2 linked regions of the Homo sapiens genome follow. The protein of the gene in region 2 purifies or fractionates together with the protein of the main gene of each other region. This does not show direct contact. Each region holds a gene or a part of one and is shown on either strand. Other genes may lie near its edges.

What was found.
Region 1: the proteins of NDUFAF2 (region 2) and SON fractionate together in Homo sapiens (co-fractionation; one large-scale study listed by BioGRID). This does not show direct contact.

The regions. Positions count from the first base shown.
Region 1 is NC_000021.9:33,556,215-33,560,043, reverse strand, and holds part of SON (protein SON), read right to left. Parts: intron 2,889-3,829; coding exon 2,728-2,888; intron 2,499-2,727; coding exon of another isoform or gene 2,493-2,498; exon of another isoform or gene 978-2,492; intron 815-977; coding exon 668-814; intron 458-667; coding exon 269-457; intron 168-268; coding exon of another isoform or gene 1-167. UniProt on the Homo sapiens protein: RNA-binding protein that acts as a mRNA splicing cofactor by promoting efficient splicing of transcripts that possess weak splice sites.
Region 2 is NC_000005.10:61,098,651-61,102,479, reverse strand, and holds part of NDUFAF2 (NADH dehydrogenase [ubiquinone] 1 alpha subcomplex assembly factor 2), read right to left. Parts: intron 3,489-3,829; coding exon 3,448-3,488; intron 1-3,447. UniProt on the Homo sapiens protein: Acts as a molecular chaperone for mitochondrial complex I assembly. Complex I functions in the transfer of electrons from NADH to the respiratory chain. The immediate electron acceptor for the enzyme is believed to be ubiquinone.

The sequences.
Region 1 (3,829 bases), on a different chromosome or scaffold from region 2:
GAGGGCCCAATGTTGGGTAGGGATGTGATAACACTGTTCTCTGCAATTCGATGCTTTTCACTTTGTGGCTTGGTTCCACAAAGTGAATTGCATCGAGTTACTGTCAAATGAGAAGCTGCGGGTTGTTTCATCTGTCGTCTAACCCGGCCCTGCCGTTTAACCCGGCCCTAAGAAGAGTGAAACAGAATCCAAATCAGACATAACATAACAATGAAATGGCAGATTCAGGTATAAAAAAGGAAAAATACATAATATTCCTCCTACTTACCTCTGAGGGCAAATTGCTGCTGAAAACATTATCATCATCTTTGTTTTCTTCACCATTTTTCTCCACAGGAACCCATTCTCCATAAACACTATCCGCTTCTTTTTTCCGATGTTGAGATCCAGATGATACAGGGAATTCTTTTGTTAATGTTACCTGGCTTTTTGGTGGAGTTGGTTTTGCTGCAGCAATCTAAAAAATAAAGTGTTTCTTAATTAAAGCTCAATATGATATCTACATTAAATGGTTTGAGATTTTCTACATAATCTGAAGGAAATGATATTATCCATTATTTCTCACAGTATTTAAAACAAAAATTAATAAACTAAATTCGATTTGGGTTTTATTTAAATAGTTCCACAAGTTACACTGTTTTACCAATCCATAAGCACTAATACTCACATTCAGATTGAAAAAAATAGGTTTGGGTTCACTGAGTTTAAAGGGATGATGATAAAAAGGAGGTTCTTCTTCCTCTTCATCCGAAACATGAGGTTTATTCACTATTACATCATCATCTTCTTTACTCTGTGCGATCTGTTTACATTTCTTTAAAAGTAAAAACAAACAAAAGATAAATCTTACGCTTTATGTAGAACATGTAATTTCTTAGAATCAAAACCACATAATAGCAACTTTCCAAAGTTAAACAAGATTCATGATAGGTTATAGATACGTAACTTGGCATATTAACTACTATTTAAACACACTCTGGCTGGTCAGTCAGTCAACAACATTTATTGAGCACCTACTATGTGCAGAGAGAGCACTGTACTGGGCACTGTCTGGGGAATACAAAAAAAAAAAAAAAAAAAAAAAGTAGAAGACATGGTCCCTGCTCTCAAGGAGCTTACAATCTAGTACAAGAGAAGGAATACATATACATGAAATAATTGAACACTTTTACAGAGCAACACAATAACAAGTGCAAACTGATATAATACAAACTGAGTACATAAGTGCTAAAAGAACAAAGGCTTAAGAGAGAATAGTCAGGCAGAGTTAGAGAATCAAGGAATATTCCTTGAAGAGTTCTAAGCCAGATTTTCATAGTAAAGAACAAAGACTGGTAGGGAAAGGAGAAGTCATCCTAGTCAGGTGGTGGTAAAAAGGTGAGAAGAAACTTGGGACAAGAAGGCTGAAGATGGGGCCGAAAACAGCAAAATACTAACTGTCCTTAGCATTTTGGATAAGGAGCTTGGATTAGGTAAATAAGCAATAGAAGCGTTTACAAGGTCCTTAATTTTTTAAAAAAAGTTGTAATTCATATTGTAATAAATCTAAGTGAGGAAACAGATTCAGAAGCTTTACATTTTCCCAGATGTATGGCAAAACAAAAGATCTGAAATATTTGCAACAGGATTAGATAGCAACATGTCTCTCCATAAATGTTTTGTGGGTTGAGTTTCTTTAAGGAGAACTTAGGAAAATAAGGCATGATGGAGAGGGTGCAATTGATGAGGTCTGATACATAAAGCAAAGTCAATTCCTTCCTGAGATGCAAAGGAACAGACTCCATTACCTGGCTTTATAAAAAGGTCAAGAGTAAATTTGGGTACACCTGTCTCTATACAAGCAGTAGATTTAATGACATCTATTATCAATTGAAAATATTACAATAGGATAAAAAGCTCATTTCGCCAAAAACACAAGAGTATATTAAGCTTGTAACCAAGGGGAACAGAATATATTGACAGTGGCAGGCTGGCATAAGGCTAGCCAATAACAAGTTCCAATATATGAAACAGTGTGGTATTTCTGGATCCTAGCAGCAATATTTTAGCATCTCCCCCCATCCACCCACACCAAAAAAATAGTAATAAAACAAAGCCCCAAAAAAGCCTCAATTGAAAAGATCAAACTTTTAAAAACAAAAATAAGTGTGTTTAAAATATATATGTTACTGCCAAAACCCGAACCGCAGGAAGAACTGATAATGGCCGGCCATTATCGCCAATGGCTGGTACCAAACAGCCAAAACCCGAAATGTTGATGCGAAAGAAGTTCCTTTCAGGCAATGGCCAGCTATTCTTATTAATTTCCAAGCTCCGGTGGCAAAAGATCATTTCTGAAGATTGTCTGTGTCTTTGCGTATATGCAGTATACTCGTGGCGATCAGTGAACGCGTCGTGAATGGAAACGAAACTGTAGGCGAGCTTCTGCGTGTTGCTCACTCAACACCTCCTCCATTCAAACGAACCGTCCCACTCCTCAGTCAGTTTGGCTTCTAAAACTGGAAAGCAAAAGTAATGGGAAGTAACTTTTAGCTAGCGGAGCTTAGCCATCCCGGATAATGGCCTGCTAAACAGAGCTTCTGCCGCTGCCACATCTGTATTTCGGGTTTTGGCCACTCGGTGCCAGCCATTATCAGTTCTGCCCACAATTCGGGTTTTGGCACGCTCCAGAGTCAACATCACTGGAATAATCCATTTAAGAATGAAAACAAATTCTGTCTAGCTTACCTCAGTTAGTTCTTCTATAGTAGCTCCTCCTGACTTTTTAGCAACTTTCTCTTCTATAGTAGGTGGAGGTGCAGGCTTTAGGTTTGGTGGTAAAGGGACACCAGCCTTAGCACACATGGCAGCTGCATTAGCTTTGGCTATTTCAAGTAATTGAGCCTTATCTGTAAGAAGAAAAATACAAGCTGCAGTTTTCCTAAAAGACTGTACATTTTGTATTACCAAAAGTCTAACATACTAACAAAACTAAAGGCATCCTAGATCCATCGAAGAACTTGGGTATCTAACAAAAAAGAAAAAAAAAAAGGAAAAAACTATAGGCATCAATATTCTGCTCTAAGTTACAGCTATGATCAAACCACTGGCTCAAAGTTTTTCAGCAGTGGCCTCATTCAGGGAATTAAGTCCACATATTGAGCTTCCCATTAGAATATTACAATAGGTTACTACACAACTATAATGATCACCCTACTACACACACTCTAAGATATAAACCTGCCAAAGCCTATTTCATTTCACAAAATTATCATGACCTTACTCTCCTTCTGACACCTTAAATCACTCTTTGAGCCCCAGTTCAAGTGCCACCTCTTTTTTTTTTTTTTTTTGAGACAGTCTCACTCTGTCGCCCAGGCTGCAGTGCAGTGGCGCCATCTTGGCTCACTGCAACTTCCACCTCCCAGGTTCAAGTGATTCTCCTGTCTCAGCCTCCCGAGTAGCTGGGACTACAGGCGCGTGCCACCACACCCATCTAATTTTTTGTATTTTTAGTAGAGATGGGGTTTCTCCACATTGGCCAGGCTGGTCTCGAACTCCTGACCTCAGGTGATCCACCTGCCTCGGCCTCCCAAAGTGCTGGGATTACAGGTATGAGCCACCATGCCCAGCCGAAGTGCCACCTCTTCTAACAAGCTGTCATTAAGTCAGAATTAACATTCCTTTTCCCCTTTTCCCATTGTGTTCCTAAAGTACCTCACCTCTATCAGTATTATAGTAATCACATTCTGTCCTTTTTAGACAGTGTTACTATAAGAGAGACATATATGCATTTTACCCATGTCTCCTCCACCACTTGCAATCACTTGAGGAATTACATACTGTTCCT
Region 2 (3,829 bases):
TCCCCATATGGATATTAAGTTATTCCAGAACCATTTGCTAAAAAGACTTTCCATTCCTAATTGTGTTGTTTTGATGTCATTGTTAAAAACCAACTGGTTGTACAGTATCTACTTTTTGGACTTTTGTTTTTTCCATTGATTTATTTACCCAGTATCCTAATGCCAGTATCATACTGTCTAGATAACTATAGTTTTAAAGTAATTCTTAAAGTCAGACAGTATTAGCCCTTTAATTTTCATCTCCTTTTTCATGGCTGCTTTCAGCTATTCTAGGTCTTTTACATTTCCAAATATATTTTCAAATCAGCATGTTGATTTCTATCAAAAAAGTCTGACATGGTTTTAACTGGATATTCATTTTATTAAATCTATAAATCAGTGGTTCACAAAATATGGGCTATGAACCATCAGCATCAGCATCATCCAGCAACATGTTATAAATGCAAATATTCAGGCCCTACCTCAAAACTAATGGATCAAAAACTCTAAGCTTGGGGTCCAGCAATCTGTGTTTTAACAAGTCTTTCAGGTGATGCAGATGCAAAATAAAAGCATAAGAACTACTGTGGATCAGTTTGGGAAGAATGAATACATTAGCAATATTGTACATTCCAATCCATGAACAGATACTTCTCCCCATTTATTTAGGTCTTATTTAATGTATCTTACCAACATTTTGTAGTTTTGAGTACACAGATCTTGCACATGTTTTGCTCACTAAATTCCACAGTATTCTATGTTTTCTAATACTGTTGTAAATGACATTCTAATGGCTGCTGGCTAACCTTTAGCAATAATATATAGGAGATATGAAAGAAAGTTTATTTGGAGTTGGGTATTCACTAAAAGATCTGGAAAAAAAATCTAGTTTCTGGATCCAGTTGTCAACTTGGAAGGAAAACAGTGGACAGAGGAACATGATGAAGTGCACCAGGAACATAAGATCAGCAAAATCTAGACTGTGGCAAATTCTGTAGGCCAACTGGGCTGGGTATTTTAACACATAAATTTCTAAGGAAGTAAAAGAAATGGAAGAGGATAGACTGAAAGATTTAAAACAAATACGAAGTTTTTACGAAATGGACAAGTCTAAACTATAATGTACATTTAGGTGAAAAAACTATTTAAAATGAGAGGAAATGATTACTATAAAAGTTGGCTTAAGGTTTTCTTTTGTCAAGAGAGAGAAGGTTGTGATTAGGATGGGATATATGGGGCTGAAGTAGATGGCAAAGTTGTGTTTCTTGACCTGGGTGGAATTTGCCTTATAATTTCACAGCTTAATAACTAAATAAGCTATTTTTTTGTTACGGTTTATAAATATATGTTTTACTTTACATTAAGAAAAATTTTTTCCTCTTAATATGATGTATCTAGAATTTGGATTTGAAGAGTGTAAAAGTTACAGTGGTAAGAACTGTGTTTGATAAAAACTAAAGTGTGCCTAATGAAGTGGTTGTTCACTTGAGGCAGGGATACTAGTATGGATGAAGTCAAAGAACTGGAAAGCTAAAATTTGGGAAAGCATTGAAAGGAGAAGACCATATTCCAGGTTCTAATCTCGACCATCAGTAAGGTAGACTGGCTTGGATGTTGGCAAACATAAAAATGATGGTCAGGTACAGAGAAATACACATGGATTACAAAGGTCCTCCACTCTCTTGGGTCCACAAACAAAGACTATTTGGGGAAGCAAGAAGCAGTTGAACTCACTTTCTTTATGTGGGGCGTGGGAAAGCGAGCACAACTTACTTCAAGGAAAAAAAGGAACTCACTATCTTGCAGGCACAGACGGATTTCAGTTGAGGTTCTGTGGTAGAGAAAGTTTCCAGGAAAATATTAATGGTGAATGGTAATTTGCTAACAAAGAAACAGAAATTCCTGAAACACAATGGAAAGGGCCAAGAGGAAGGAAAAGAGTGTGTGTGTGTGTGTGTGTGTGTATTAGGGAGGGTACGAAGCAGCATAAAGAACAATGTGATTGATAGTACACTTAAAGGGAGGCAACAAAAGAGGGCTCATTTTGGATAATCAAAATTAACAAGAGTGAGCTCAGGGATGGAAGGACTTGGTGTGTTCTGGCTAGAGATTGTTTGAGGTGCTGAAATTACCTAAAATTTACAGAAGTTGTGCCTGAGGCCCAACTATTGCAATTGCCTCCATTAATCACTTTGCATATTAATGTTTCTATGAATAAGGCTTTCAAAGTTCTGAGGATGGATGAAGCAAATGATAACAGTAGCTCTTATTATGACCAAGAGAAGGAGAATCAGAAGGCTCTTCAATCCATCCTTCACTGTAAACTACTGGGCATACTTCTGAATCCTGGATCATATTGCCTTTTATTTTTTCCCCCCAAAACAGCTTTTATTCCAAATTTTATCAATGTTGGAAAGAAGGGTCTGCGAAAAGTAGGCCAAGGCAGAAGCAACATACAAAGCTAGAAATGGGTCAAGAGATGTACTCAGTCAGACCCTGGCCGAATGAACATTAATGGGTTCAGTATATGACAAATGTATGGAGCAAATAAACATAAGCATGCCAGTTGAGGTATCATCATTATCCTGCTCTAGAGCACTCCACTTCCCAACAAATGGGGATTGAGTACCGGAGCCCATTTATGTTGTCATCAGGGCTTGTAGTAGTGACAGAATAGGCAACAGAAGAGAGGAGGGAAGTCCTAAATAGTAGAAGAAAGGGAATGCCTCTAGACAAAAAGTAAACAAGGCAGTACACTAATGCATTTAGAGACTCTCCTTTTATGAAATTACTTCTTATAAAATAACTTTAGAGGTCTTTACATATTTTTAAAATTAAAATTATAATTTTTATAAAATAATCTATATAAAAATTATATTGTAAAACATATATACCATAGCATTTCTATGTTTTTTTATTGTTTATCACTGACTACAAATTTTTTAGTTTTAAATAAAAAGTCAACTAATAATTACTGTTATAAAATAATTGCTAATTCTGTATTTTAAAGTTTCTTTGGATACTTGATGGATTTAAATACATAATATTAAGGGAAACATAAGAGCATGATTTGGACAAGACAAAGAGATTCAGTGTTTCTCAAACTTTTCCACAAAAGCTTGAGTATTGGCACAGAGAACCCCCAGGGCCCAGGGGAAATAACCTGGTGCAAACTGCTCCAAGTTCAGACTTTCTACAGAGTGTTTTAATTTTGTTTTAAATTTTTATTATTTCACTTTAAAATTTATACAAATTTTGTTATATTCCATAATATGAGCATTTATTTTATCATATATTATTTTATTAATAATATAGGTTTATATATTAATTTATTATAAAATGTTTTAAGTTATTTTCTGTGATGGAATAAAATCAACACTTTGAGAAAATACATCATAGTTTTTCTGAAGCTTCGTATATCCTTGGGAATATATACTCCTAAATGATATCCTCCTTGTGTAGTCTTACCTCCATAGTAGGTGGAGTCTTTCTTGTTCTTCTAATCCAAGCTAGAAAGAAAAATAATATTTAAATGTCAGTTTCCCATAATTTACACAAACATTTTTATCCATAAAACAAATTTTTTTGAGTACCTACTCCATATTATTTTAGGTACTGGAGATACAGCAGGGAATAAAACAGATTAAGTCCCTTCTCTACTGTAGCACATGTACTACTGAAGGGGTTGCAGAAAATAAACACACAAACATATGGTTGGTGGTGATATGTGTCATGAAGAGAATATAATAGTGTAGAGAAGATAAAGAGGGGACAGTTTCATATGTTTAAAATCATACCTCCTAATCATCTAAATTCGACTGGGTATATTTATGGCATACAAGCCAAACCA